Homo sapiens: one gene and its partners. The protein of the gene in region 5 purifies or fractionates together with the protein of the main gene of each other region. This does not show direct contact. Each region holds a gene or a part of one and is shown on either strand. Other genes may lie near its edges.

What was found.
Region 1: the proteins of DEF8 (region 5) and ZMYM6 purify together in Homo sapiens (affinity purification with mass spectrometry; 2 studies listed by BioGRID and IntAct, with this or other methods). This does not show direct contact.
Region 2: the proteins of DEF8 (region 5) and PASK purify together in Homo sapiens (affinity purification with mass spectrometry; 2 studies listed by BioGRID and IntAct, with this or other methods). This does not show direct contact.
Region 3: the proteins of DEF8 (region 5) and PKN3 purify together in Homo sapiens (affinity purification with mass spectrometry; 2 studies listed by BioGRID and IntAct, with this or other methods). This does not show direct contact.
Region 4: the proteins of DEF8 (region 5) and KDM5C purify together in Homo sapiens (affinity purification with mass spectrometry; 2 studies listed by BioGRID and IntAct, with this or other methods). This does not show direct contact.
Region 6: the proteins of DEF8 (region 5) and IFT122 purify together in Homo sapiens (affinity purification with mass spectrometry; 2 studies listed by BioGRID and IntAct, with this or other methods). This does not show direct contact.
Region 7: the proteins of DEF8 (region 5) and PKN2 purify together in Homo sapiens (affinity purification with mass spectrometry; 2 studies listed by BioGRID and IntAct, with this or other methods). This does not show direct contact.

Annotation. Positions count from the first base shown.
Region 1 is NC_000001.11:35,025,025-35,029,171, reverse strand, and holds part of ZMYM6 (zinc finger MYM-type protein 6), read left to right. Parts: intron 1-4,147. UniProt on the Homo sapiens protein: Plays a role in the regulation of cell morphology and cytoskeletal organization.
Region 2 is NC_000002.12:241,104,952-241,108,535, forward strand, and holds the end of PASK (PAS domain-containing serine/threonine-protein kinase), read right to left. Parts: exon of another isoform or gene 3,516-3,584; intron 3,350-3,515; coding exon 3,216-3,349; intron 2,549-3,215; coding exon 2,402-2,548; intron 1,773-2,401; coding exon 1,615-1,772; 3' UTR 1,148-1,614; downstream 1-1,147. UniProt on the Homo sapiens protein: Serine/threonine-protein kinase involved in energy homeostasis and protein translation. Phosphorylates EEF1A1, GYS1, PDX1 and RPS6.
Region 3 is NC_000009.12:128,708,356-128,712,502, forward strand, and holds part of PKN3 (serine/threonine-protein kinase N3), read left to right. Parts: intron 1-4,147.
Region 4 is NC_000023.11:53,211,311-53,215,457, reverse strand, and holds part of KDM5C (lysine-specific demethylase 5C), read left to right. Parts: intron 1-610; coding exon 611-769; intron 770-3,551; coding exon 3,552-3,671; intron 3,672-3,802; coding exon 3,803-3,961; intron 3,962-4,147. UniProt on the Homo sapiens protein: Histone demethylase that specifically demethylates 'Lys-4' of histone H3, thereby playing a central role in histone code. Does not demethylate histone H3 'Lys-9', H3 'Lys-27', H3 'Lys-36', H3 'Lys-79' or H4 'Lys-20'.
Region 5 is NC_000016.10:89,961,957-89,966,103, forward strand, and holds part of DEF8 (differentially expressed in FDCP 8 homolog), read left to right. Parts: intron 1-55; coding exon 56-169; intron 170-1,406; coding exon 1,407-1,487; coding exon of another isoform or gene 1,488-1,865; exon of another isoform or gene 1,866-1,955; intron 1,956-2,213; coding exon 2,214-2,354; intron 2,355-2,509; coding exon 2,510-2,619; intron 2,620-3,904; coding exon 3,905-4,007; 3' UTR 4,008-4,147. UniProt on the Homo sapiens protein: Positively regulates lysosome peripheral distribution and ruffled border formation in osteoclasts. Involved in bone resorption.
Region 6 is NC_000003.12:129,512,921-129,517,067, reverse strand, and holds part of IFT122 (intraflagellar transport protein 122 homolog), read right to left. Parts: intron 2,680-4,147; coding exon 2,514-2,679; intron 1,581-2,513; coding exon 1,469-1,580; intron 1-1,468. UniProt on the Homo sapiens protein: As a component of the IFT complex A (IFT-A), a complex required for retrograde ciliary transport and entry into cilia of G protein-coupled receptors (GPCRs), it is required in ciliogenesis and ciliary protein trafficking.
Region 7 is NC_000001.11:88,690,504-88,694,650, forward strand, and holds part of PKN2 (serine/threonine-protein kinase N2), read left to right. Parts: intron 1-1,220; exon of another isoform or gene 1,221-1,277; intron 1,278-4,147. UniProt on the Homo sapiens protein: PKC-related serine/threonine-protein kinase and Rho/Rac effector protein that participates in specific signal transduction responses in the cell.

The DNA of each region.
Region 1 (4,147 bases), on a different chromosome or scaffold from region 5:
TGGAGTTTTGCTGCAATGTTGTAATCTTGGTGGCTCACTGCAACTTTCACATCCCGGGTTCAAGTGATTCTCCTGCCTCAGCCTCCCCAGTAGCTGGGATTATAGGCGCCTGCCACCACGCCTGGCTAATTTTTTGTATTTTTAGTAGAGACGGGGTTTCACCATGTTGGCTAGGCTGGTTTCAAACTCCTGACCTCAGGTGATCCACCCACCTCAGCCTCCCAAAGTGCTAGGATTACAGGCGTGAGCCACCACACCTGGCCAATTGTAGGGTTTTAAGTGAGAAAGTAAGATGAAACAGATTTGTGTTTGGAAAGATCATTCTGGCTACCCCATAGGGACCCAGAATGGAGAGCACGGAAATCAATGTGGAGGCTGGGCACAGTGGCTCACGTCTGTAATCCTAGCACTTTGGGAGGCCAAGGCAGGCAGATCACGAGGTCAGGAGATCGAGACCATCCTGGCTAACACGGTGAAACCCCGTCTCTACAAAAAATACAAAAAATTAGCTGGGCGTGGTGGTGGGCGCCTGTAGTCCCAGCTACTTGGGAGGCTGAGGCAGGAGAATGGCGTGAACCCAGGAGGCGGAGCTTGCAGTGAGCCAAGATTGCGCCACTGCACTCTAGCCTGGGTGACAGAGTGAGACTCCGTCTCAAAAAAAAATAAAATAAAATCAATGGGAGAGATGAGTTAGTTGTTTTGGCAAGGAATTTTTCTTCTGGGACAGTTCTTTCGCTTTACACTCAAAGTTATTGACTTTATTGTATCAGCAAAGCAATTATATTTTAAAATAATAAAAAACAATTTTATTTTTCACACCATCTCACAGGCAGTATCATTCCTTTTTTTTTTTTGAGATGGAGTCTTGCTCTGTCACTCCCAGGCTGGAGTGCAGTGGCGCGATCTTGGCTCACTGCAACCTCCGCCTCCCAGGTTCAAGCGATTCTCCTGCCTCAGCCTCCTGAGTAGCTGGGATTACAGGTGTGCGCCACCACGCCTGGCTAATTTTTTATATTTTTGTTAGAGACTGGGTTTCGCCATGTTGGCCAGATTGGTCTCAAAACTCCTGACCTCAAGTGCTCTGCCCACCTCGGCTTCTCAAAGTGCTGGGATTATGGTTGTAAGCCACCATGCCCAGCCACAGGCAGTATCATAAGAAGACAGGGATGTCAGGTAGGTTTTGTTTCACTCATGAACTCTATGCCTTGCTAGAGTGCTGGGCTAAGAAGAGTTCTGAGGTAGTGTCTGTTAGATGTGGAGTGGGGGATGGTGGCATCCATGCTACTTGTTTTCCCTCCAGATGGTAAATTCTTACTCTTTCTCTGCCTAAAGTAACCATTTCTTTGCCAGGTTTTGTGGTTTTTAGCTTTTAAATATTTTTTGTATCTGACCCATGATGTTCTTCTATATTTCATTATTTCTCTCTCTCTTTTTTTTGTTTCCTTTTTTTGAGACAGGGTCTCACTTTGTTGCCCATACTGGAGTGCAGTGGTGTGAGTATGGCCACTGCACTCTAAACGATCCTCCCATCTCAGCCTCCCAGGTAGCTGACCACAAACATGCTCCACCACACCCAGCTAGTTTTTGTAGAGACGGGGTCTCCTTATGTTGCCCAGGCTGGTCCTGAACTCCTGACCTCAAGCAATCCTCCTGCCTTGGCCTCCCAAAGTGCTGGGATTACAGGCATGAGCCATCATGCCTGAACTATTTCATTATTTTTCATTTGGACTTTTATAATAGTTTCCTACCTATTCTCCTTCCTTCAGTCACATATCCCATCAAAACACTCTACAGTGATGCCATTGTACTGTATAGATCGAGTGATATTTCTCCCTTTAAAGACCCTGTTTCCTCCAGTGTGATGAAGCAAAGATCTTTCAATGTGACATCCAAACCATCCATGTTTAGGCCTTTGTTTCCCTCTCCAGTGTCATCATTCATTGTTTCCACCTTTTCAAATCTATGCTGCTGCCAGCTATTTGCAGTTCACTCAAAACTATCTTCTAAAACTCGGTTGCATTTTATTTCCCTGCCTTTGCACCTGCCATTTCTTGTGCCGGTGGAAGAAGAAATAAGCTAGGTAGGCTGGCAAAATTTTGTCCTCTTTTAAGATGAAGTTTCTCACTCACAAGTAGAATGAGCTGTTCTCTCTCTCTTTTTTTTAATTGTATAGTGCAATCACTTTTATTATGGTATCTACAGGTCAATGAATTTTGTCTTCATACTGATTATACTAATCTGGCCATCTCCTCCTCATCTTTCATTGACACACTAGACTGCAGTCTCTCTGAAGTCAGAAATTGGTCTTATTGACCTGAATCTCCAATTCCTAGCACAGGATTTGGCACAAAGTACATGTTCAATAATTGGAATAAAAGAGCCTCTTTCACATATAAGGAAGCTGAACCTGAAGGAATAAGTGACTTCACCAGTGTCTCATGGTAAAACTGGGATACAACAGTTTGTTGTTACTCCAGATGCAATATTTCTTTCATTATACCTTGCCTATACACTTAACAAATAATGTGCTTTAAGTTAATTCAATGTTCTTTCTGAATATAAAAATTGTGATAATGGAAATCTCCCTAGCAGCTTAGATTGTATATTTAAGAGGGTAGGAACTGCTCAGTTGTCTTTGGTTTATATTAATGTTTTCAGGTGAATAGGCTATATTTTTTCATGATTGAGGGTATAGACTATGATTGAAAAGCCAATTGAACAAATTGTGTATTATTTTCTATGTTGCATTGATGAATCTCCTTTGAATATTGGAAAATAAGAGATAAATAAAAATGTTTTTTATTTTCTGATTTTCTAAGAGTTTGTTCTGGATATTAAAATTATAGTTGAAGGCCAGGCGCGGTGGCTTGTGCCTGTAACCCCAGCAGTTTGGGAGGCTGAGGTGGGCAGATCCCTTGAGGTCAGGAGTTCAAGACCACCCTGGCCAACCTGGTGAAACCCTGTCTCTACTAAAAATACAACAATTAGCCGGGCGCGGTGGTGGGCGCCTGTCATCCCAGCTACTCAGGAGGCTGAGGCATGAGAATCACTTGAACCTGGGAGGCGGAGGTTGCAGTGAACTGAGATTGCGCCACTGCACTCCAATCTGGACGACAAAGGGAGACTCCATCTAAAAAAAAAAAGTTGCAGTTTAGTCCTTATATTCATATATGTTGAGTATTCATATTCATTCAGTGAGTTTTTATTCCTGCCTGCTGTAATCCATAATACTTGAACATTGTTGTGAGCAGTTTACATACCTTAATCCATTCGATGCTCACAACCCTCAGTTAAGTACTGTTTCTCTTCCCACTTTACCCATGAGGAAGCTGAGTCCTAGATAGTAACCCGTTAAAAGTCACATAATTAATAAATGGTTGAGTCAGGATTTGGACTCCAGCAGTCTGATTCAAGAGCCCAAACCCTTAACCAGGATGGTAAACTGTATTAGTTACTTTGTTTTCAGAAAGGCTACAGAGATGAAAAGATAGGACTTCTGCTCTCAAGGTAATTGATAGTGTAATGGAGAGAAAAGTTATGAGAATGAGAGAAGTAATATTTGTTGAGTGACTGTGCCTTGTGAGAAGCTATGCTAAGCATATCTTATGCATTCTCATTTAAACCTAATTGTCTTCAAACTTGTATGCTTTCTGCTGCTTTGTGCCACCTTTTTTTTTTCTTTCTTTTTTTTTTTTTTTTTTTTTTGGGATGGAGTCTTGCTTTGTAGCCCAGGCTGAAGTGCAGTGGCGCCATCTCGGTTCACTGCAACCTCCACCTCCTGGGTTCACGCAGTTCTCCTGCCTCAGCCTGCCGAGTAGCTGGGATTACAGGTGCCCACCACCACACCTGGCTAATTTTTGTATTTTTAATAGAGACGGGGTTTCACCATGTTGGCCGGCTGGTCTCGAACTCTACCTGCCTCGGCCTCCCAAAGTGCTGGGGTTACAGGCGTGAGCCACCGTGCCTGGCCTGTGCCACCTTTTGTGCAAATACAAAATCAAGGCCATGAGTGGTGGCTCATACCTGTAATCCCAGCACTTTGGGAGGCCGAGGTAGGTGGCTCACTTGAGGTCAGGAGTTCAAGACCAGCCTGGCCAACACGGTGAAACCACAACTCTACTAAAAATACAAAAAAATTAGCCAGGCT
Region 2 (3,584 bases), on a different chromosome or scaffold from region 5:
GCGGAGGTTGCAGTGAGCTGAGATCGCACCATTGCACTCCAGCCCAGGCGACAGTATAAGACTCTGTCTCTAAATAAATAAACAAACAAACAAACACCATTCTATAACATCCTCTGTGTTATAAGCACCATAAACACTACAAGGTAGGGGTTCTTAAAACATCAGAAAACTCTTTGAATTCTGAAGAGTGAACATCACTGACTTTAATACACACCTGTAAAACCCTTGTACCTTGAATGTCCCTGATAGAGGAGGGTCCTCCCCCACCAACTCCATCAGTCACTTGTGGTGGCAGCGAGGCTCAGGCAGCACTTTCTGAAGAAAGGGATGGCAATAGCCCATATCCTACTAGATGGGACTAAAATTAACTCTGATCATCCCAAAACAGTTGAGTGCCTCCTAAATAACCACTAGAAATAGCTCAGAACCACGCAGGAGGCAGCCTGGCTCCCAGGCAGCTTCCAGAGGGTTCTGGGCAGGAGTCTCAGAATGTGGAAAAACCGTCTGCAAGTGATGACATGTGGGAAAAGGGTAGGGGTTTAGGTTTTTGGTTTTTTTCCTACTGTCTCAGCAGGGGAAAAAAATGAAAGGTTCTGCTCTCACCTCTAGCTATTCCCTCCTCTCTAACACAGACATGAAATAAAACAATCCTAAGTACTTGACCTAGCCAAGTCTGTCTGAGGGGGATGGACTGGAGTCTAAGGGAGGGAAGCAGCCAGTTGAGTATCTGACAAACACCCTGGAACCTGAGCAGCTCGGAGGAATACAGGGCTGGAGCCCCTCACACAGACCAGAGGTGGGGGCTGGGCCAGGAAGCCCCTCATGTGGACAGAGGTGGGAGCTGGCTGGCCATGGGATATTTGGGGACTGCTGGCAGTGAGCCAGCCACGTGTTTGACAGCAGAGTCTTGCTACAGACAGAAGGGAGGTCCCTGAGGAAGCCACCCTCCCCCGTCTTACCAGATGGAGCAAGCTTCAGAGCCCTAGGCCCACCCCTGGCAGGGCCTGCTTGTAAAAGGAACCCCAGAATGGCCAAGGCTAGACTTCTCTCCAACTGTGGCAAGTGGGGTGCACACATGGAAAAATGAGGAAACCAGGTATTTCTCACACTTAGCACACGGGAACAGTTCACAACATCCAAGTCAGGATAACTGTTTACTAACAAAGGTGCTTTAATTTGAAAAGCATTTGAGGAAATAAATTAATGAAATAGTCTGGCCATTTGACTAACCAGTTCTACAAATTTCACATATCCGTCACTCAGATGAGCATATACCAAGTCAGAGGAAACAAAACATGCACATATACAAAAGTAGAAAGAGAAAACACTCATGCCTTCAGAAGTTCACAAATTAAAAGCCCTTTAATAATATAAAACAGTTGAACACTGGAATGTTTTTTTCTAGGTCATGAAAAAAGTGAATTCCAAATCTATGTAATAAATCTAAAATAATACAGCATCACTGTCTTCTGTTCTGGTGTTTATCAAACCTGCACATGAGTTTTTAGAAGGTGAATTGGGGATGCTTCAGAATGTATTTTCTCCAAACAGATGGAGCCTGAAAACTGTGTGATTTTCCAAACCAAGTGGAGAAAAGCAGGAAGAAATTGGTGTTTAGCTGGTCAGCAGACGGGGATCCCCGGGATGCAAACAGCCTTGGCCATTAGGAGCCTCGCCTGGAACGGGGCCCCCACAAAGCTCCTGAGCCTGGGCCACATCACTCAGGCTCCTGTTCCCCATCTCCAGGCTCGCAGCGGACAGAACTCCACTTTCTGAAGAAACAAGAAGGTAACTGTATCACGTGCTAACAACTTAAGGTTCTAAAATACTTTGCTTCTCACTTGAAGAAGTCCTAGAACAAAAGCCTAAGGTGAGGCCCTCAGAAATCCAACTGGCAATGTCCCGGAAGTACAGATCCTGCCAAGGTGGGGATCTAAGCCCAGGGCCATCAACCGCAGCTTGGTCCAAATGCTCTGAGCAGTGGTTTTGGCTCTGTGGCCAGAGCCTTGTCTGAAGAGCCCTCGGCCCCGCCGGCTGCTAGAGAATCACTCTCAGCATCTGTGGCCTCATCCTCCCCTTCGGCCCAGTCAGACCATCACCAGCTGCATTCCTCAAACCATCTTTGAGGGTTCCGACCCCTTCTGCCAGGAGCTCCCATGACACCTGCCCACCCTCCAAGGTCCAAAGCCACACCCTGAACCCCAGTGGTGTCCAGAGGCCTCGGGACAGAATCAAACCCCCTCTCACAGGTGACAGGTCAGCTATAGGCCCTGACATTTGTGTCCAAGACAGCATGGGGGAGAGAGCCTCCTTTTCCTCCTTTTGACCTAGGAAGGCAGCCTGGGGACCTCGTTATTCCAAGTGAAGTCATGTGGGGTGGAGGGATGCTGAGAAGCCTCACCTGGCTTGTTTACTCGAAACACCTCTTCCCATGTATAGTCAGCAAGATTCACAGGCTGTGTTACCCACGGGTCTGTCACCAGCTTCTCCAAGGTGGTGCGTCTCTCAGGGACTGGCTGCAGCAGCCCAGACACAAGGCTCATGAGTTCTGGGGACACAAAGAACACAGATGGTAGGTCCAGATTGGGATGAAGTGGAGCACATCTCAGATTCCTGGGTGCTCACCACCCCCCCGCAGAGCCTCTGACTGGGCAGGTGGCGGCCCAGGAACCTCTAGTGCAGGGCCCAGCTGTGCTTGGACAGAAGCTGCAGGAAACATTCATTGCCTCTGAAATGAAAGCTTGGAGTTCAAGATGCCATCCCACTCAACCAAAATCCAGGTGGTGCAGAGGTTCCTAACTGCTCTATTCTCAGGGGCTCTGGCAATGCAGAGCTGTGAATAACGCAGGGTTAACATGACAGGTGAGGGGATGCCAGCACAAGCTGAGAGAAGCCCCCAGCCTTGCATCTGGATTCGGGCCCCAGTTCCTTTAACCATGTAGGCACCAAGTCAACAGGGCCACTTGGAGCCTCCCTGTCCTGACTGCAAGTGTGTTTCTCACAAGAGGGCCTCTAAGATCCAAAGAGGAACATTAACAAAAACTAAATTATCAAGATGTTTTAAAGTCATATGCAAATTATTTGATGAATAGAAAAGAAACAAATGAGACTGTTGATATGGACAGAGATACACTGAGGAATGAGGAAATGGGAAAAAAAAGTGGCTGGTCTCTAAGGACAGTGTCGACTGTCTACCACTTGCAGCTCACGCTCACCTTTGGACACCAGGTATGGCGGGTGTATGGCAGCCTCCACGGTCTCCTCCAGCTCACAGAAGGGGTTCTCCTCAAAGACCAGCGTGTACAGAGTGACTCCCAGAGACCACATCTCCAGCTCCGGCCCTCTGTAGCTGTGAGGAGGAGGAGGCATCAGGACGCCACGGCACTCAGCGCAGGCTTGCCAAGCCCGCCCATGGGAAGCACCATGGCCCTTCCCGACCAGCACACAGGCCAGGCAGTGGTTTCCCAAGAGGAGGGTCACTCCACCCCTCAAACACGCCCTCCATTTCCACGCACTTCTGCCCCAGGCCAGCCAGCAGGCCATGTGCCAGGAGTGGAGAGGCCATCGGGCAGCTCCGAGGCTAA
Region 3 (4,147 bases), on a different chromosome or scaffold from region 5:
AGGTAACAGGGCAAGACTCCATCTCAAAAAATAATAATAATAATTTCCTTGGAAAAAAAATAATAAAATTAAACTAAAATTGCTGGGTGCAGTGGCTCACACCTATAATCCTGGCACTTTGAGAGGCTGAGGTGGGAAGATTGCTTGAGCTCAGGAGTTTTTTTGAGACCCAGTCTCAAAAAAAAAAGAAAAAAAGAAAGTTTTCTTGGCTGGGCACAGTGGCTCAAGCCTGTAATTCCAGCACTTTGGGAGGCTGAGGTGGACGAATCATTTGAGCCCAGGATTTCTAGACGAGCCTGGGCAACATAGTGAAACCTCATCTTTAGAAACAAAAAAAATTAGCCGGGCGTGGTGGCGCATGCCTGTAATCCCATCTACTGGGGAGGCTGAGGCAAGAGAATTGCTTGAACCTGGGAGGCAGAGGTTGCAGTAAGCCAAGATTGCACTGTTGCACTCCAGCGTGGGTGACACAGCAAAACTCTTTCAAGAAAAAAAAAAAAAGAAAGAGTTTTCTGGTCTGGCTCAGTGGCTCATGTTTATAATCCTAGCAGTTTAGGAGGGTGAGGCATGTGGATCACTTGAGTCCAGGAGTTTGAAACCAGCCTGGGCAACATGACAAAGCTCCATCTCTACAAAAAATACAAAAATCGCCGGGCGCGGTGGCTCACGCCTGTAATCCCAGCACTTTGGGAGGCCGAGGCGGGCGGATCACGAGGTCAGGAGATCGAGACCATCCTGGCTAACACGGTGAAACCCTGTCTCCACTAAAAATACAAAAAATTAACCGGGCGTGGTGGCGGGCGCCTGTAGTCCCAGCTACTCGGGAGGCTGAGGCAGGAGAATGGCGGGAACCCCGGGGGGCGGAGCCTACAGTGAGCCGAGATCGCACCACTGCACTCCAGCCTGGGCCACAGCGAGACTCTGTCTCAAAAAAAAATAAAAAAATAAAAAAATTAGCCAGGTATGATGGTACGTACCTGTAGTCCCAGCTACTTGGGAGGCTGAGGTGGGAGGATTGCTTGAGCCCAGGGAGGTTGAGGGTACAATGAGCCATGATCGCGCCACTGCACTCCAGCCTGGGCAACAGAGAGCCCGTCTCAAAAAAAAAAAATTAGGCTGGGCACGGCAGCTCATGCCTGTAATCTCAGCACTTTGGGAGGCCGAGGTGGGTGGATCACCTGAGGTCGGGAGTTCGAGAGCAGCCTGACAAAAATGGAGAAACCCCGTCTCTACTAAAAAATACAAAATTAGCCGGGCCTGGTGGTGCATGCCTATAATCCCAGCTACTCAGGAGGCTAAAGCAGGAGAATTGCTTGAACCCGGGAGGTGGAGGTTGCAGTGAGCCAAGATGGCACCATTGGAATCCAGCCTGGGCAACAAGAGCAAAACTCTGTCTCAAAAAAAAAAAAAATTTGCAAAAATTAGCTGGGTGTGGTGGCGGGCGCCTGTAGTCCCAGCTACTCGGGAGGCTGAGGTGGGAGAATGGCATGAACCTGGGAGGCGGAGCTTGCAGTGAGCTGAGATTGTGCCACTGCACTCCAGCCTGGGTGACAGAGTGAGACTCCAAACAGAGTGAGACTCCGAGCAGAGTGAGACTCTGAGCTCTGTCACCCAGGCTGGAGTGCAGTGGCGCGATCTCGGCTCACTGCAAGCTCCTCTTCCCGGATTCATGCCATTCTCCTGTCTCAGCCTCCCGAGTAGCTGGGACTACAGGTGCCCGCCACCACACCTGGCTAATTTTTTGTTTTTGTATTTTTAGTAGAGACAAGGTTTCACCGTGTTAGCCAGGATGGTCTCGATCGCCTGACCTTGTGATCTGCCGGCCTAGGCCTCCCAAAGTGCTGGGACAGGTGTGAGCCACCGCGCCCGGCCAAAAAAGTTAATTTTCTTATCTTGCACTGAGATCTGTCTCCTTGTAGCAGCAGCCAAATCATCATCAACAAATAATCTGAGAGCATGGGCTTTGAAGCTGTATCCCACCGAGATACAGTGAGAGCTGGAAAGGCCAGTGCCTGTCTCCACAGAGCACTGCTACAGGGCCGACTGACCCCATTCCATTGTGAGCAGAGCTGAGAAGAGGAAATGCAGGCTCTGGATGGAGCCCTCTCACCTGGCCTTGGGGAATCGAGGAATATTTTCTTTTCTTTTTTTTTTGAGATGGAGTCTCGCACTGTCGCCCAGACTGGAGTGCAGTGGTGCGATATCAGCTCACTGCAACCTCCGCCTCCTGGGTTCAAGCAATTCTCCTGCCTCAGCTTCCCGAGTAGCTGGGATTACAGGCCTGCACCACCATGCCTGGCTAATTTTTGTATTATTAGTAGAGACAGAGTTTTGCCATGTTGGCCAGGCTGGTCTCAAACTCCTGACCTCAGGTGATCCATCTGCCTTGGCCTCCCAAAGTGCTGGGATTACAGGCGTGAGCCAACCATGCCCGGCCCAAGGAATGTTTTCTAGAGGAGGTGGTGTCTTGGCCTTGAAGGACTTACACGGGAGTACTTATGGCCAAGTAGACAAGTTGAGGAACGCAGAAGAAACAGCTTGTTAAAAGGCCTAGAAGTCAACTACTCAAGGCCACCCCATATCCTGTCCCCTGGCTAAACACCCCAGATACTTGAGTTGTCCTTTTTTTTTTTTGAGATGGAGTTTTGCTCTTATTGCCCAGGCTGGAGTGCAGTGACACGATCTTATTGCCCAGACTGGAGTGCAGTGGCGCAATCTTGGCTCACTGCAACCTCCGCCTCCCGGGTTCAAGCAATTCTCCTGCCTCAGCCTCTTGAATAGCTGGGATTACAGGCATGTACCACCACACCTGGCGAATTTTTATATTTTCAGTAGAGATGGGATTTCTCCATGTTGGTCAGGCTGGTCTCGAACTTCCGACCTCAGGTGATTTGCCCGCCTTGGCCTCCCAAAGTGCTGGGATTACAGGCGTGAGCCACCTCGCCCCACCTCTTTTTTTTTTTTTTTTGGAGACAGAGTCTTGCTCTGTCGCCCAGGCCGGATTGCAGTGGTGTGATTTCGGCTCACTGCAAGCTCTGCCTCCCGGGTTCACGCCATTCTTCTGCCTCAGCCTCTCGAGTAGCTGGGACTAACTACAGGCGCCCGCCACTGCGCCCGGCTAATTTTTTGTATTTTTAGTAGAGACGAGGTTTCACCATGGTCTTGATCTCCTGACCTCGTGATCTGCCCACCTCGGCCTCCCAAAGTGCTGGGATTACAGGTGTGAGCCACCACGCCCGGCCTTTTTTTTGGGGGGGGTGGGGGACAGAGTCTTGCTTTGTCGCCCAGGCTGGAGTGCAGTGGCATAATCTTGACTCACTGCAACCTCCGCCTCCCAGGTTCAAGCGATTCTCCTGCCTCAGCCTCCCAAGTAGTTGGGATTACAGGCGCCCACCGCCATGCCCGGCTAATATTTGTATTTTTAGTAGAGACAGAGTTTCACCATGTTGGCCAGGCTGGTCTCGAACTCCCGACCTCAGGTGATCCACCTGCCTCAGCCTACCAAAGTGCTGGGATTACAGGTGTGAGCCACCACGCCCGGCCTCAAGTTTTTGTTTTGTTTGTTTTTTTTTGAGCTGGAGTCTTGCTCTGTCGCCCAGGCTGGAGTGCAATGGCACAATATTGGCTCACTGCAACCTCTGCCTCCCGGGTTCAAGTGATTCTCCTGCCTCAGCCTTCCGAGTAGCTGGGATTACAGGTGCCCACCATCATGCCCGGCTGGTTTTTGTATTTTTAGTTGGGATGGGGTTTCGCCATGTTGGTCAGGCTGGGCTTGAACTCCTGACCTCAGGTGATCTGCCTGCCTTGGTCTCCCAAAGTGTTGGGATTACAGGCATGAGCCACTGCGCCCGGCCGAGCTGTTCTTTCTAAGCTTCTCTTTCTACCCTGGACCCCTGCCTTTGTTTACAAGTTCTCTCTGTGTGTAACCCCCAGGCCCAGACTCTCCCTAAATGATACTCTTGGGCCTGCTTCGTGTCCTCAAAAGCTGCTAGATCCCCACTGCTTTCTCTACCCTTTGAGGGACAACCCTCTAGTGACGTGACACATGAACTTACTCCGTTGACAAAACACGTTTCATATCCATTGGGAGAGGTGGGGCAGAGCTGGGACTCACCTCCACTGTTCAGATGGGGAAACTGAGGCCCAG
Region 4 (4,147 bases), on a different chromosome or scaffold from region 5:
CTCTGCTATAGCCACACTGAACTCCTTGTAGGTATGTTCATTTTTCCCCGTAAGATGCAGTATGCTCTTTCATCCCTATCCTTTGCACATGTTGTTTCTTCAGCCTGGAAGAGATTCCCCCTGTGCTCTGCCCTGTTGCCATGTTTTGTTTTGCCTTCAGGTTTCAGCCAGTTTCAGGTGTTACCTTTTCAATGAAGTCCTTTCTCAAGGCCATCCCTCCTTATCTCCAGCTGCTTTGAGTGCTTCCTTCTCTAGGCTCCCACAGTGCCCTTTATGGACCGCTATTGGCAATTTTTAATTTTTATGAACACATGTCTCTAGAGTACTGTATATACTTGGAAGGATACCATGTCTTGTCTTTGTGCTAGAGTCCAGCGTAGTTCTGAATACGGGTTTAGTAAGTGTTTATTGGATGAATAAAAATGGGAGGATTCAAGACTGGATGATAAAAGACTGCTCTTGCAGCTCTACCTGCTTATTTGGGGAGATGGTACATACGTGCAGTTGAGCTCCAGACCTAGCATGACTAGCCTATACAGGGCTGTAAATCATTCAGCCAGCAAACACAGTGGATTTCCAATGGAGAACTTTTGCTCTTCTCCCCTGGCAGATTGAGTCATATGTCTGCCGGATGTGTTCTCGAGGGGATGAGGATGACAAGCTCCTGCTGTGTGATGGCTGTGATGACAACTACCACATCTTCTGCCTGCTGCCTCCTCTGCCTGAGATCCCCAAGGGTGTCTGGCGGTGCCCAAAGTGTGTCATGGCGGTAAGGCCTCCCCACTCCACATCTGCCTCATAGGGCTTCCTTGCCTTCCTTCATCTGGCCTTATTGAGGGCAGCCTCTTAGCTCAGCCATAGTCTTAGGTTTTGGGTCTCTGTGGTGGGATTAGGCTGGGCAGAGCTTTGGGAGAAAGGAGCAGGAGATTCAGCCTTTGCTTCTGTCCTCTAAGAGCTCCCAGACCACCTGGAGAGGTAAGCATCATAATTAGACTATATGTGGTGACATATAAACAGAGGCTAAATTGTGTGTTAGAAACTCTGAGATATAGAAGTTCAGAGGAGAGGAAAATAGCTAAGGGTAATAATCAGGGAAAATGTCAGAAATGAGACTTGAAGGATAGGAATATTAAGAAAAAAATGTTCTTTCAATTTCTGAGTTTTTGTTTTGTTTTTTTTTTTCTTTTTTAGAAAGTTTGAGGCCGGGCGCGGTGGCTCACGCCTGTAATCCTAGCACTTTGGGAGGCTGAGGTGGGCGGATCGTTTGAGCCCAGAAGTTTGAGACCAGCCTGGGCAACATGGCGAAACCCCGTCTCTACCAAAAAAGATACAAAAATTAGCCAGGCATGGTGGCGCACGCCTGTTGTCCCAGCTGCTCGGGAGGCTGAGGTGGGAGGATCGCTTGAGCCCAGGAGGCGGAGGTTGCAGTGTGCCAAAATCATGCCACTGCACTCCAGCCTGGGCAACAAAATGAGACCCTGTCTTCAAAAAAAAAAAAGACATTTTGGAAAATAGGCAAATTACTTGTGTTCCCACCACCCAGTGATAACCATTGTTAATAGTTTGATATATTTTTTTCTCATCTTTTTGCTGTTACTTATATGTAACTATCTTTAACAAGTTTGAGATCTTGTTATATATTTTCATTTGTTGCTTTATAACCATTTCTCTATATTACTAAGTTTAATTAAGGTCTGGAATTTTTTTAGATGGTGTATCATGGGTATAATATTTATTTAGTTGTTTTCCTCTTGTTATATTTAGATTGAGGCAGTGCTACAGGCTTTAACTAGAGAGGTGGTTGGCTGTTCAGGACTGGGAGGTGGAGGACTAGCAGGAACAGAGGTATAGCAGGAGAGCATGCCTACTATGGGTATAGGGGCAGTAAGGAGAGCAGCTGAAGCAGCAGTAAGGGCCAAGCAGCCAGGAAGTTGGGCAGGTACATTTCATGAACTTCCTACCTTCACCCAAATTCTCGGTACTTACCTTCTACATTTCCCTCTGGATTTCTGTAGAGCAGACATTCGCCTTATCTTAGGGACTCAACTGTGGTTGTAGAGACCGGGTGTGCACATGCATACATACACACAGACAGACATACACAGATGAGGAAAAATCAGGGCAGTGCATATTGGCCTTGGTAGTGGTGGAGATTCTAGTTGGGGAGGAGTTTGGATACCAACAGTATCAAGACTGTCGACTCTACTTGACTCTCTTCTCTAAGTGGTTATAAGTCAGTGGACCAGACGGACATTTATTTTTCAAACATAAGCATGGTGTGTGTCTGATTTTGGGGTACATATTGTTCTCATCTAAAATAATGAACATAGGTACAAAATGAGGTAGACCCACATCCTATCTTCTGAGACAGTCTCAAGAACAGGATTAGTGGAGGGTTTGATACTGTAAAAGCCAGTGTCTTCATTTTCCATCTTTCTTTTTTCTTTTTCTTTTCTTGCGACAGAATCTTGCTCTGTCACCCAGGCTGGAGTGCAGTGATGCCATCTCTGCTCACTGCAACCTCTGCCTCCCGGGTTCAAGCGATTCTCCTGCCTCAGCCTCCTGAGTAGCTGGGATTACAGGCGCCTGCCACCACACCTGGCTAGTTTTTGTAGTTCTAGTAGAGACAGGGTTTCACCATGGTGGCCAGGCTGGTCTCGAACTCCTGACCTCAGGTGATCCACCCCACCTCAGCCTCCCAAAGTGCTGGGTTTACAGGCATGAGCCACCATGCCCGGCCCTGTTTTCCATCTTTCAAGGTACTGGAATATTCAATGCCATTTTCCCAGCCTTACAGTTCTAGTCTGGGCATAAAAAACCTTCTCTAAGCACCCTGCATAGAACCACATTTTAGAGGCCAGGCGTGGTGGCTCACGCCTGTAATCCCAGCACTTGGGAGGCCAAGGCGGGCGGATCACAGGGTCAGGAGTTTGAGACCAGCCTGGCCAACATGGTGAAACCCCATCTCTACTAAAAATACAAAAATTAGCTGGGCGTGGTGGCGGGCACCTGTAATCCCAGCTACTCGGGAAGCTGAGGCAGGAGAATCGCTTGAACCTGGGAGGCGGAGGTTGCAGTGAGTTGAGATTGTGACCCTGCACTCCAGTCTGGGTGACAGAGCAAGACTCCGTCTCAAAAAAAAAAAAAAAAAGAATCACATTTTAGCTAGAGAGGAAAAATGGTGGCAGAAGAACACAGGATAGCATATTAAAGTCAGAGCCATTTAGATAAAGTCCTAAAGGAAGAAAAGAGCATGAGATGACTCCCTGGAAGTTGTGAGACTGGAATTGAGTTTTGAGGAACCAATGAAAGAAAGTGGAAAAGGACATTTCAGTAGGGAGGAACTGAGCAAAAGCATGATGGGGAATGAAAAGACTAAGCCGAAGTGGTAAGAGCAAAAGGTACAGCTGTAAAGTAAGGCCTGCCTCAGGGGCCTTGAGTGCAGACCTAGGGCTCTTCTCCCTCCCTACCCCTTATATTCCAGTTCCACTTGGGAGGATTCTTCACCTCTTTGCCTCTGTTTTGGTGACATGTTCTCCTTTGGGTTTCAGGAGTGTAAGCGGCCCCCAGAAGCCTTTGGCTTTGAGCAGGCTACCCGGGAATACACTCTGCAGAGCTTTGGCGAGATGGCCGACTCCTTTAAAGCTGACTACTTCAACATGCCCGTGCATGTAGGTGATGGAGGGCTGAGGTAGTGTTGGGCTAGGATCATAGGTATTGATGCCAGATGGTCTCAGCTCACCTGGATCAGTGGGTCCAGGGTGTGATGGGCCATAGTCATCTGCTACCTGTCTTCCCCCAGATGGTGCCCACAGAACTTGTGGAGAAGGAGTTCTGGAGGCTGGTAAATAGCATTGAGGAAGATGTGACTGTTGAGTATGGAGCTGACATCCATTCCAAAGAATTTGGCAGCGGTTTCCCTGTCAGTGACAGTAAACGGCACCTAACCCCCGAAGAGGAGGTGAGTGGATGATTCATGGTTACGTGTCAGCTGTGTGAGCTTAGGCAAATCATTTAGTATCTGAAAAACTCAGTATCTCTGTAAGATGAGGATAATTATGCCTGTCTTATGTAGCCATGAGATTTAGATGAGATGAAAGAAAACAGTCTGGTACCTGGCATGTACAAACATGAGATGGGTTCTTTC
Region 5 (4,147 bases):
CCGCTGCACGGGCCCTGGGTGGGTGTGAGAGGTGTCACCCGGCCGTGCCTGGCAGGTTTCTCGCTGCAGCATGCGCTACCTGGCGCTGATGGTGTCTCGGCCCGTACTCAGGCTCCGGGAGATCAACCCTCTGCTGTTCAGCTACGTGGAGGAGCTGGTGGAGATTCGCGTGAGGCTGGGGCCATGGAAGTGGGGGGCGGGGGCGCTGTGTCAGGTGGGCCCTAGGGCCGGGCCAGTACCCTCTTCTCCTCTGGGCCACGGGAGGTTCTGAGCAGAGGAGGGAGGCCACCTGCTTAGGGTGAGCCAGGCGCCGCGGCTGCCCTTTTGGTTGAAGGTGCTGGAGCGGTGTCCCGTAGTGATCTGATGCCAGGTGTGAACACAATATTAAATTTTGTAATAGCCACGTTAAAAAAGTAAAAAGAGCTGGGCACGGTGCTCACACCTGTAATCCCAGCACTTGGGAGGCTGAGGTGGGTGGATCACTTGAGGTCGGGAGTTTGAGACCAGCCTGACCAACATGGTGAAACCCCATCTCTACTAAAAATACAAAATTGGCCGGGCATGGTGGTGTGTGCCTGTATCCCAGCTACTCGGGAGGCTGAGGCAGGAGAATCACTTGAACCCGGGAGGCTGAGGTTGCTGTGAGCCGAGATCGCGTCACTGCACTCCAGCCTGGGCAACAAGAGCGAAACTCTGTCTCAAAAAAAAGTAAAAAGAAACAAGTGAAGTTAATGTTAATAGTATATTTTATTTAGCCCAATATATCCAAAATGTTATTTCAACATGAAATCAATGTACATTTTTGAGATATTTGCTTTCTTTTTCTTTTTTGTGCCACGTCTTTGGCTCCAGCATGTAGCCTCTGCTAAGTCTCACTGCACAGCGGCCACTTTGAGGTGCTCTGTGGCTGTGCAGGGCTGGTGGCCACTCTCTTAGCCAGCGGTGAGGGAGGAGGTAGGGCGGGAGCCGAGGGCAGACGGGAGCTGCAGTCCTGGCAGGACATGATGGCGTCTCACGCCAGGTAGTGAAAGGAGGCAGGTCCCATTTTACCCGGGAGGAGACTGTGGCAGCACGTTGAGTTGCCAAGGCCAGGGCTGGGGAGGCAGCTGGGATTTCTCCGGAAGTTTGGCTTGGTCCTGAGGCTGCTGGTTCCTAGACAGTTGTGTGCCTGTGGGGCCGGGTGAGGGCAGAGGGAAGGGAGGGTTTTCTGGACCACGGTAAGTGAGCCTCACGGTCCTGCCCAGCCTGGGAGCTGTGATTTTGGGTTTTGGTGAAGCACTCAGATCTCGGCCCTTCGTGGGGAACCAACCCCTCCTGGCCCTGCCGTGGCCCCGGGTGTGCGGCCCACACAGGGGCCGCCCTGTGTCCTGGCTGAGGAGGCCTGCCTGCTCCCGCCTTGTTTGCAGAAGCTGCGCCAGGACATCCTGCTCATGAAGCCGTACTTCATCACCTGCAGGGAGGCCATGGAGGCTCGTCTGCTGCTGCAGGTCAGACTGCCAGCAGGACTGGCCCCCGATGGGAAGCGCAGCCAGGGTGGTGAGGCACCTCAGGCTCAGGTTTTTTCCGGACAGCTTGTGCGTGGAGTGCCTTTAGCAGAGGGTCGCCTCACCACGGTCCCAAGGAACAAAGCAAACAGGTGTTCTGCCTACAAAAGAGTTCTCCAGTCAGTTCCGTTTGGCAAACCCTGCAGCCCTTATGTGAATCTCCATGGGGTGGGTCCAGCCCAGCCCTCGTCAGGCAGGTTGACCACAAAACACAGTTTTCAAGGTTCATCTAATTATGTGCTCAACAGATACAGATGTTCTAGATTCTGGAACAGTGAACGAAACAGACAGGAATGCTTGCCCTTAGTGCCTTTCAAGTAGGGAAGACAAGAAAAATACGTTGTGTGCTGGGGTGGTGAACTCTGTGACAAGATAGAGAAGGAAGGGTGGGGAATGTGGGAAGCGTGGGGAGTGCGGGGATGCGGTGTGGCTGGGAGGGGCTGCCTTAGGGAGTGGAGGGCGGGGGGCTACACAGGTCAGGAAACGTGGCCCGGGTCCATCTTCCCCTGTCGGCTTCCTGGGGCTCCTGGATTCTACTCCTGGGGCCCAGACCCTTGTGTAGCTCGTTTCTCTGTGAGCACCTGGGCCCTGACCACTGCAGCGACCATGGGTGGGCGGTGGGAGGGGCCCTCCCCGGTGCAGGGCGTCACGGCTGCTGGGACTTGGCAGCTCCAGGATCGGCAGCATTTTGTGGAGAACGACGAGATGTACTCTGTCCAGGACCTCCTGGACGTGCATGCCGGCCGCCTGGGCTGCTCGCTCACCGAGATCCACACGCTCTTCGCCAAGCACATCAAGCTGGACTGCGAGGTGGGCCTCTGCCCGAGGGCCGCTCTTCTCCAACCCCAGCCCTGAGGGGGGATTGGCAGGAGAAGCAGCCCAGCCCAGTGTGTCCCTGGCCTCAGAGTGCCCAGAGGAGCTGGCACTGACGTGCCCGTGCCCCAACCCCACACTGTTCCCCCCAGCGGTGCCAGGCCAAGGGCTTCGTGTGTGAGCTCTGCAGAGAGGGCGACGTGCTGTTCCCGTTCGACAGCCACACGTCTGTGTGCGCCGACTGCTCCGCGGTCTTCCACAGGTGGGTGTGGCCTGGGCCCCGCACTCGGGGGCTGGGGCTCTGCGCTGTCCTCTGGGGAGCTGCCCCTTGGCCTCCGGTAGGATGATGCCGTGGGAGCTGGCACTGCTCCCCCGAGAAAGGGGAGACATAAAGACTCTTTGGGTCTTTGCTGACCCTGAGATATGAAGTCAGACCCTGATGTCTGTGACTAAATGAGAAGTTCCCTTAGGAGCGGCACCTGGGGGATGAGGGGGCTGCCCCTTCCCAGGTCCCTCCCGGACCAGCCCCTGAAACTCCAGCTTGGTCTCTGATGTGTTCACAGCATCCCAGCTGCTCCCTTTCTCTACTAGGATTGAAGTCACTCTTTCAGGGTTAGTATAGGCTAGAGATTCCCAAACCTATAGTTCCTGCCACCCTTTAATGTCTCAGTAATTTTTTCAAAGTGTTTCTAAGCCAGAAGAAATTCCTAACACTTTGATTTATTAAGTACTTATGCTCTCGCGTTTTTTTTCCTAGCCGCTAGACCAACAGGGAAAAATACTTATGTTCAAACAACTTTATAAGTATTTGTATCCTAAAGATTGAGTGGCTCTTGGAAAAATAATGTACACAAATTAGAAGAAAAATATTTTAATTTCATTCTTCAGTAAGTATGATTACTTACTAATGATATGGGTACACCTTTTGGGCCTCACACATCTTCCAGACCTGGAATCAGATGGACACTCCCCCCCAGTTTCTGTCCCCTGATTTTTGCCTGGAATTTGCTATTTTTCATAGCAACTGCTGAAATCCCAGCTCTACAGAGCGATGGTGTCACACAGATGGGACTGTGGCAGAAACTAAGGTTGAGACTGAACTCGCTCGAGCTAGTCGTTTGCTCAGTGTCTGACAGGTGTTAATTACTGCTACGTTCTGTTTAAAAGTTTGAACTAGGCTGCGGTGCCCCAGGGTGCCGTGATGTACAGTTTGGGAGCCAGGGGAGGGATAGGAACAGGTGGGAATCGTGAGGAAGGGCTCTGAGTCGAGTCTGGCGTGGCCACCTGGCTCAGCCCCTCAGCTGTGTGAACTGGGACCTGTGTGGTTGGGGGATAGCAGGTAGCGTGAGGACCCCTGGAGGTCCACATCTGCACGCCCGTAAGCGCTCTGCACACGGCCATACAGTCACTTGCATCTGGCTGCAGACTCCGACTCTGCCCTTTGGTAACGGCTGTAGAGGGGATGATAGGAGCTGACCTAGGACGCTTGGGGGGATTCAGTGCTGGAGTTTCCTGTGCAGAGAGCCCCGACCTCTTTCTGCCCCCAGGGACTGCTACTACGACAACTCCACCACTTGTCCCAAGTGTGCCCGGCTCAGCCTGAGGAAGCAGTCGCTCTTCCAGGAGCCAGGTCCCGATGTGGAGGCCTAGCGCCGAGGAACAGTGCTGGGCACCCCGCCTGGCCCGCCAGGACCCACCCTGCCAACATCAAGTTGTTCCTTCTGCTCCGGAGACCCCTGGGGTGCGGCCCTGGCCCCCTCCACCCCTGCTGGGCCAGAGCGGGTGGGCAG
Region 6 (4,147 bases), on a different chromosome or scaffold from region 5:
GCAGTCTGTGTGTGTGTGTGTGTGTGTGCAGGAGCAATCTGTGTGTGTGCAGGGGCAGTTTCTGTGTGTGTGTGTGTGCAGGGGCAGTCTGTGTGTGTGTGTGTAGGGGCAGTCTCTGTGTGTGTGCAGGGGCAGTCTCCGTGTGTGTGCAGGAGCGGTCTCTGTGTGTCTGTGTGCAGGAGCGGTCTGTGTGTGTGCAGGGGCAGCCTCTGTGTGTGTGTGTGTGCAGGGGCAGTCTCTGTGTGTGTGTGCAGGGGCAGTCTCTGTGTGTGTGCAGGAGCGGTCTCTGTGTGTCTGTGTGCAGGGGCAGTCTGTGTGTGTGTGTGCAGGGGCAGTCTCTCTGTGTGTGTGTGTGTGTGTGTGTGTGTGTGTGCAGGAGCAATCTGTGTGTGTGCAGGGGCAGTTTCTGTGTGTGTGTGTAGGGGCAGTCTCCGTGTGTGTGTGTGTGTGCAGGGGCAGTCTCTGTGTGTGTGCAGGGGCAGTCTCTCTGTGTGTGTGTGTGTGCAGGAGCAATCTGTGTGTGTGCAGGGGCAGTCTCTGTGTGTGCACGCAGGGGCAGTCTCCATGTGTGTGTGCAGGGGCAGTCTCCATGTGTGTGTGCAGGGGCGGTCTCTGTGTGTGTGGGCAGGGGCAGTCTGTGTGTGTGTGCAGGGGCAGTCTCTGTATGTGTGTGCAGGAGCAGTCTCTGTGTGTGTGTGCAGGGGCAGTCTCTGTGTGTGTGTGCAGGGGCAGTCTCTGTGTGTGTGCAGGGGCAGTCTCTGTGTGTGTGTGTGTGTGTGTGCAGGAGCAATCTGTGTGTGTGTAGGGGCAGTCTGTGTGTGCACGCAGGGGCAGTCTGTGTGTGTGTGCAGAGGCAGTCTCCGTGTGTGTGCAGGGGCGGTTTCTGTGTGTGTGTGTGCAGGGGCGGTCTCTGTGTGTGTGTGCAGGGGCAGTCTCTGTGTGTGCAGGGGCAGTCTGTGTGTGTGTGTGCAGGAGCAGTCTGTGTGTGTGTTCAGGGACAGTCTGTGTGTGTGTGTGCAGGGGCAGTTTCTGTATGTGTGTGTGTGCAGGGGCAGTCTGTGTGTGCGTGTGTGTCTGTGTGTGTGTGTGGCCTCTGCTCAGCTCCTGGGAAGGGGCTTCTGATCCTCTGTCAACATCAAAGGAGCTGGGCCTTGATAACCTATCTCAGCCTCCTGGTCTGAATGCAAAGCCATCGGACTCTCTTTCTGGGGCATTTGGTTATGTAAAGCCCTGCGCCAGGTTCCCAGAGTGGGTGCTTCAGCTTTGGGCAGCAGTGGGTCCTATCTCTGGGAACACCGACAGTGACTCCTTGTGTCAGGTAGGTGGGCGTCAGAGTGTCCTCATTTCATAAACAGGGACATTCAGAGGCCTTTGGCCCTTGCCCAACGTCCTGAGGCCAGAGAGCAGTGGAGTGAGCCTGGCTGTCCACAGGCTGTCCCACCCACATGCTCAGGATGCAGGGACTCACCGTAGGAAGAGGCGGAGAAGATGAAGGGCTGGCGGCAGTTGATGCAGACGTTGCCCAGGTTGTTGAGCAGCGGGTTGTTGGTGGAGCAGCGGTAGCACAAGGGCACCAACTCCTACAAAACAGCCACGGACTCCCGAGGGGCCGGGGCAGGCACGTGTCCTCCTCCCCCTGGACTCTGGCTTCAGGCCCCTGGGGCCTGGCTGCCAAGAGGAAAGGCCACCCGGGTGGGCAGGCAGGGAAGGGGCGCCGGGCCCAGGAGCTCCATGCCATGGGGAAGCAGGATAAAGGCCTGCCGAAATACCCAAGCCCTGTCACTTGGGTCCCCGTGCCCAAGACACCTGCACAGGCAGCGCTCAACGGCACTTTTCCCCTGGCAGGAATGACAGTGGCCGCTGCCACCATTAGCCAGCCATTTACCATGCTCCGGGCACCGTGCGGAGCACGTGGACTATACTGGCTCATTTAGCCTCACAACTACCTGTGGGAAAGGGGGAACCCAAGGTGCAGAAAGATGGAGACAGAGCTAGGAGAGGGTGGAGCCGGGATGTGAACCCAGGTCTGTCTGAACCAAGTCCTTGCTCTGAGCTTGAGGGAGGATGTGTGAAAGAAGGAAGCTGGCTGGGTTGAAGGAATGTGGGTTGGGAGTGTGGGGTAGATTTGCTGGAGAACTACAGCCTGGTTCCAGAAAGGGCAGAGGTTTCTAGAGTAAGAGTCAGCTCTGGGGCCAGGCCTGGGGTAAAGGCAGAGCCACCTGGGCACAGAGGTGTGGGGCTTGCCTAGGGGAGGGCAAGGAGCAAGGGAGGCCAGGCTGAGGGCTGAGGCCGGGGCCGGGGGCTGTGAGCGGGCGCCAGGTGGACTGCGGGGAGAACAGGAGGTGGACAGGGAAGCACAGGGGAGCTGGCATGGCCAGGCTTGAGCAGGGGGCACAGAGCCTAGAGGGAGCTGCAGCTGTCTCTCTTCAAACGGAACCCAGGCCAGGCAAGAAGGCATGAGATGGCCTCAAGGGAGAGGAGAAGCCACCTGCCCAAGGGTGCTGCATCCTCACCTCACTGTCGTGGAAGGGCTTGGCGCGGATGGTCAGGGTACCCAGCTCAATGGACTTTTGGAATCTGGCAGGGATGTACAGGCCACGCAGCTTGTCATAGGCGTGCCGGGCCAGCCTGTAGGCACCGAGGGCCTTGCTCTGCTTGGCCAAGGTGAAGAGTATTTTCCTGCCGTGAACAGGGTTAAGGACAGCAGGGGCAACACCAGGCCCAGGAGCTGGCACTGCCTGTCCTTGGAGTGAGCCCCAGGCTGGAACACAGCTTGTGCTGGTGCCGGGAAGGCAGAGGAAAGACCGTGAGGAAGGCTCTGTGCGCTTGTGAGAGGTGAGTGTACTTCTCGGATGGCAAGGCCCAGGAATTTTTCCAAAGATAAAAACAGCGTAGTTTCCATTAATACTTTAACCTTGCTTAGCATCTCTGGGCCTGCTGATGGCTCATCTTATACCCTGACTAGGCCAAAATGGCTCTTCCTGCCTCACCAAACCTGCCAGCCAGGCCCTCCTAGGATGCCTGGCACAAAGGGCACTCTGCTCTCACCCTGCCAGGTGGGGCCTGGTCCAGACTCCCTGGGGAGCCACCCTCAACCCTGCTCTGAGGCCCCTGGGTGTACCCCACTCTGTCTGCACACCCTTCCCCGAGGGCCTGGTGGGCAGTTTCTGAGCGGCAGCCTGTGCTCTGGGGCCCCCTTGAAGCTCCTCAGCCAGAGGCTGACGAGCCTTTGTGCTCTCCTCTCAGGTCACCTCCGATGTTGGCTGCCCCCAGGCCCTCCTGCCCTTCCTCCCGCATCTCTCCCAGTGTTCCTGCTCCCGCCGTCTGCAGTGCAGCCCCGTCCACTTCAGCAGTTCTGTGGAGAGTTTCCTTCTGTGTCTCCAGCATGACTCCTCAAAGTCAGGGACTGTCAGGAGCCATTTCCAGGTCCCCAGGGGATGGCACAGGGTAAGGCTCAGGGTAGAGGTTCTATCAAGCTGTTGACTCAAACAGAACTTGCTGGAAAGGATGAGTACAGGTGCTCAGCCCCCACAGGCATAGCCCTGACTGCTCCTACGGGGAAAGACGGAGACGCATGCAGCAGAGGTCTGACTCCAGGAAGGCACCCCTTGATTTGAGGGTATTTCCCCTGAAATGTACATAATGGGCCTGGAATCCTCTAGCGAGGCCAATTCTTACAACAAGGAGCTCTGGGTCTTCTCCAGTGGAGTGGGTTTTCCTTACAGAGGGAAGGTGGGGCTGCGGCTGGGAAGGAGCTGAGAGTACAGTGAGATTTAGAAAAGAACAGGGACAATTATGTCTCCTGACATCCAAGACCTTAAAAATCTGGATCATTGCCTGGTAATGATCCAGTATCTGGCTGCACAGGCCCTTCAGGCACCTGCTCTGCTTATGGTACCACTGTGGCCCTCGATGGCTACAGAAGAGAGGAAAACCCAAAGGTAGGCTCTCAGGCCTTGGGTCCTGCTGCCTCTCCGGCCCCTCCCACCCAGGGTCCCCTCACCCTCTCCCACATGCCTTGCTTGCCTCTCCATATGCTGGGTCCTCCCCTGGAACATCCACTTGGCCATCTTCCCTGGCTGCCTCAGCTTGCATGATGGACATCTCCTCCTCCAGGTAAACTTCCCTGACCATGGCCCTGACCTCA
Region 7 (4,147 bases), on a different chromosome or scaffold from region 5:
TTCAAACTTGACAGCAAAGTTGAAAACTAGTTAAAAGCTTTAAAAAGATTTAAAATTTAGAGTGGGAAAAATATACTAATGAAAAAGTAATTCCTTAATGAAACAGAAATAGAGAATCTTTATCTTGATGCATGTCTAGCTTGTCTTAATTTTATCTGATGAAATCTTGTTTGAAACTAGCTCTATTATCATACTTGGTTTTTTTTTGCAATCACAAAAATGAAATTTGTGTAACATTATATACATAAATATTGCCTGTAAAAAATGAAGATCAAGAAAGCATGGGACAGTGTACTTGATGACAGTAAACACCTTAAATGTGAAGGTAGTGTTGAAGTGCCTCATAAAGATGAGTGGATATACAAGACTTACATAATATTGTTAGGATTTATCTCTTTTAGAAATTTGTCAGTGACTTATCAAATTGGTGAAAGTTTTACTGCCCTGGCTCATAAGTACCTTAATTTAATGGAATGTAGTTATGACAAAATTTGGAATTTATTTTTGATTATAGAAGACATACCACACAATACATGTGCTGAGAGTTTTTTATTTATTTTATTTTTATTTTTATTTTTGAGACAGGATCTCGTTCTGTCACCCAGCTTGAAGTGCAGTGACGTGATCTCGGCTCACTGCAGCCTCTGCCTCCTGGGCTCAAGTGATTCGCCCATCTCAGCCTCCCAAGTAGCTGGTACTATAGGTGTGAGCCATCATGCATGGTTGATTTTTATATTTTTTTGGAGAGACGGGGTTTTGCCATGTTGCCCGGGTTGGTTTTGAACTGCTGGACTCAAGCAGTCCACCTGCCTTGGCCTCCCAAAGTGCTAGGATTACAGATGTGAGCGTCTGTGCCTGGCCTGAGTATCATATATTTTACACATTAATCATACTGTTTTCCCTTCCCTGTAGTTGCTACCTTAGGGATTCTTTAAGGAGGTGTTTGTTCTCCATTTCAGAATTTTCATTGAACAAATTTTATGCAACTTTTGGATTTTTAAAAAATTTGTTAAACATCAGGCACACTGCATTGGATTAATCACCTATCTGTCTGTCAATCATTTTAATAAGTACTCATGGACCACCACTCCCCCTCTCTCAAAACAAGCTAGGAACTTTAACCTACGTATAGTTTTCCTCTATTCTATCCGTCTATTTCCACCTTCTTGTCATCTAGGTCATCATTTTTGAGTCCTGTGTTCATTCTCTTCCTTATATAGTAGTCCCTCCTTATCCACGGTTTCAGTTACCCATGGTCAACTGTGGTCCAAAAATAGGTGAGTACAGTATAGTACTATAAGATATTTATAAGTACTAAGATACTTTGAGAGAAACCACACTCATAACTGTAATTACAGTATAGTTATAATTGTTCTATTTTATTATTAGTTATTGTTAATTGCTTACTGTGCCTAATTTATAAATTAAACTTTAGCATAAGTATGTATGTTAAAGGAAAAGTGTAAATAGAGTTTAGTACTGTTCGTGGTTTTAGGCATTTACTGAAGGTCTCTCGGTGGATAAAAGGAGACTACTGTGTATAGTTTAGTTGGACATATAAATCTAAACATCTTTTAGTTGTTTGTATAGAATTGTGAATATAATCTTTTTGAACTTGATTTTTCACCTGTTATAAATAAGATTTATCCACATTTTTGCATGTTGCTATAGTCATTATTTAAATTGCTATATAATATTTCATTGAGTAAAATATTCATTAACTCTACTTTGGTGGATATTTGGATATTTATCCACTCTCCCTTGTTGGGCAGTTATTTTCCATTTTTTGTTTTGTTTTGTTTGTAATTATAAGCAAAGATCCTATGGACAGTCTGCATGTTTCCTACTGTGCATGTGCCACAGTTCCTATTATATACCTAGAGGTAGCATTGCTGCCTCACAGGGTAGGTGAATGTTCAACTTAAGAGATGATGCAGAACTTTCAATATGGTTGCACCAATTTATATTCATATTAGCAATATATGAAATAAAAGATCCTTTGGTTATCCATCCTCTCCAACACTTGATATTCTCTTTTTAAGTTTTACAAATCATAAGGGTGTAAAATGTTGCCTTATTGTGGTCTTGATGCGCATTTTCCTGGTTATCACTGATGTAGAACACTTCTTTTTATGTTTGTCGGCCTTTTTACGTGGCTTCTTCAGTGAAATTCCTATTTATGTCTCTTGCCTATTTTTGTTTTTCTTACTAGTTTATAAGAGTTCTTTATATTGCTTATGTTAATCCTCTGTGTACATTGTGAATGTCTTCTTTCAGTTCCTAACTTTTTCGCTTTCTTTTATGGAGTTGTGTGGGAGGGACAGTTTTAAATGCCTCTACCTTCTTTGGCAAATATTTGGAATAATTTACATCGTTATCATCAACAGGCTTGTATTTAATATCTATTGTACATTTGGTATAGAAAGGGTAAAGTTATATTAATAGTTTATGGCCTGGGGATTTGTAAACTATCCAAATGAACAGCCATAGGAAGTTGTATAAAATATTGTATTGCTTCACACATGCTAGGCACCCAAATGCTAGGTTGATTTAGTTAATGAGTAAATTCAGAAGCAAAGAAATAGCAAAAATTATACATACACTTCATCAGTTGCTTATTTTCCAATTCCATACCTCTCTGTTGCAAACTACTTATTATTAGTCATTAATAATATTTTATTCTTTTGTTTAAAGGGCAGTATATTCCGTAAGATTATGTGAGTCAGTTATTTAGGTATTTTCATAGCTTGCCATTAAAATGCTGGAGTTGATCAGATTTAATACTGGATATAAAGCAAAATATTAATCTTCTGAACAGTTTACTAGTTCAGAAGTTTACAAACTCGGAATCCTAAATACAGTTTTTGTCATTGCTGTGCATCTTTTGATAAAAAAAATTCTTAAGTCAAATTTGTCCATTGTTTATCATACAGTAAGTCCTCACTTAATGTCATTGACGGGTTCTTGGAAACTGACTTTAAGCAAAATAACTTATAATGAAACCAGTTTCTTTTTTCTCATCAGTGTTCTAAGGAAATGATATTATAAACAATGAAACATTAGCCAGAAGTGGTGATGCACACCTGTAGTCCCAGCTACTTTGGAGGTGGAGGTGAGAGAATGACTTGAGCCCAAGAGTTAAGGCTGCAGTGAGCTGGAATCGTGTCATTGCACTCTAACCTGGGCAGCATAGTGAGACCCTGTCTCAAAAAAAGAAAGAAAAGAAATGATATTGAGCGAAACAGCATTATTAAAGGACCTGAAGCACATTGTTTTTCTTAAAGTCTCAGTTCCAAGAACCTATCAGCAGTGTTAAGTGAGGACTTACTGTAATTGCTTTTCATGCCCTTTTAAATAAATTATTCCCTATCCTGGGTTTAAAAGATAGCTACCCAAGTTTGCTCCTAAGAATCTTGCAGTTTTATTTTTTAGATTTAAGTCAGTTTATCTGGATTTGTTGTTTTTTAATAGACTTCATATTTTAAAGCAGTTTTAGGTCCACAGCAAAATCGAGAGGAAGGTCTAGAGATTTCTCAAATAACTGCGTCCCTACATATGTACATATGCATTATCGACATCCTCCACAAGAGTACATTTGTTGCAGTTGATGAACCTATATTGACACATCATCATCATCCAGAGCCCAGAGTGCACACATCTTGGTGTTGTGCATTCTATGGGTTTGTACAAATGTATAATGACATGTATCCAGCATTATAGTATACAGAATAGTGTCCCTGCACTAAGCTTATTCTCTGTGTTCTACCTATTCATCCTTCCCTCTCCTCCATCCCCTGGCAACCACTGATCTTTTTACAGTTTCCATAGTTGTGCGTTTGGGAAAATCTCATGCGGTTGGAATCATACAGTGTGTAGCCATTTTACATGGGTTTCTTTCACTTAGAAATAAGCATTTAATTTTCCTCCATGTCTTTTCATAGCTTGATAGCTTATTTCTTTTTAGTACTGAATAATATCCCATTGTCTGTATGTACCTTAGTTTATTCATTCACCTACTGAAGGACATCTTGGTTGCTTCTGTTTTGGCAGTTATGAATAAAATGCTATAGACATCCTATGCAAGTTTTTGTGTGGATGCAACTTTTCAACTCCTTTGGTTAAATACCAGGGTGTCCAATTGTATGGT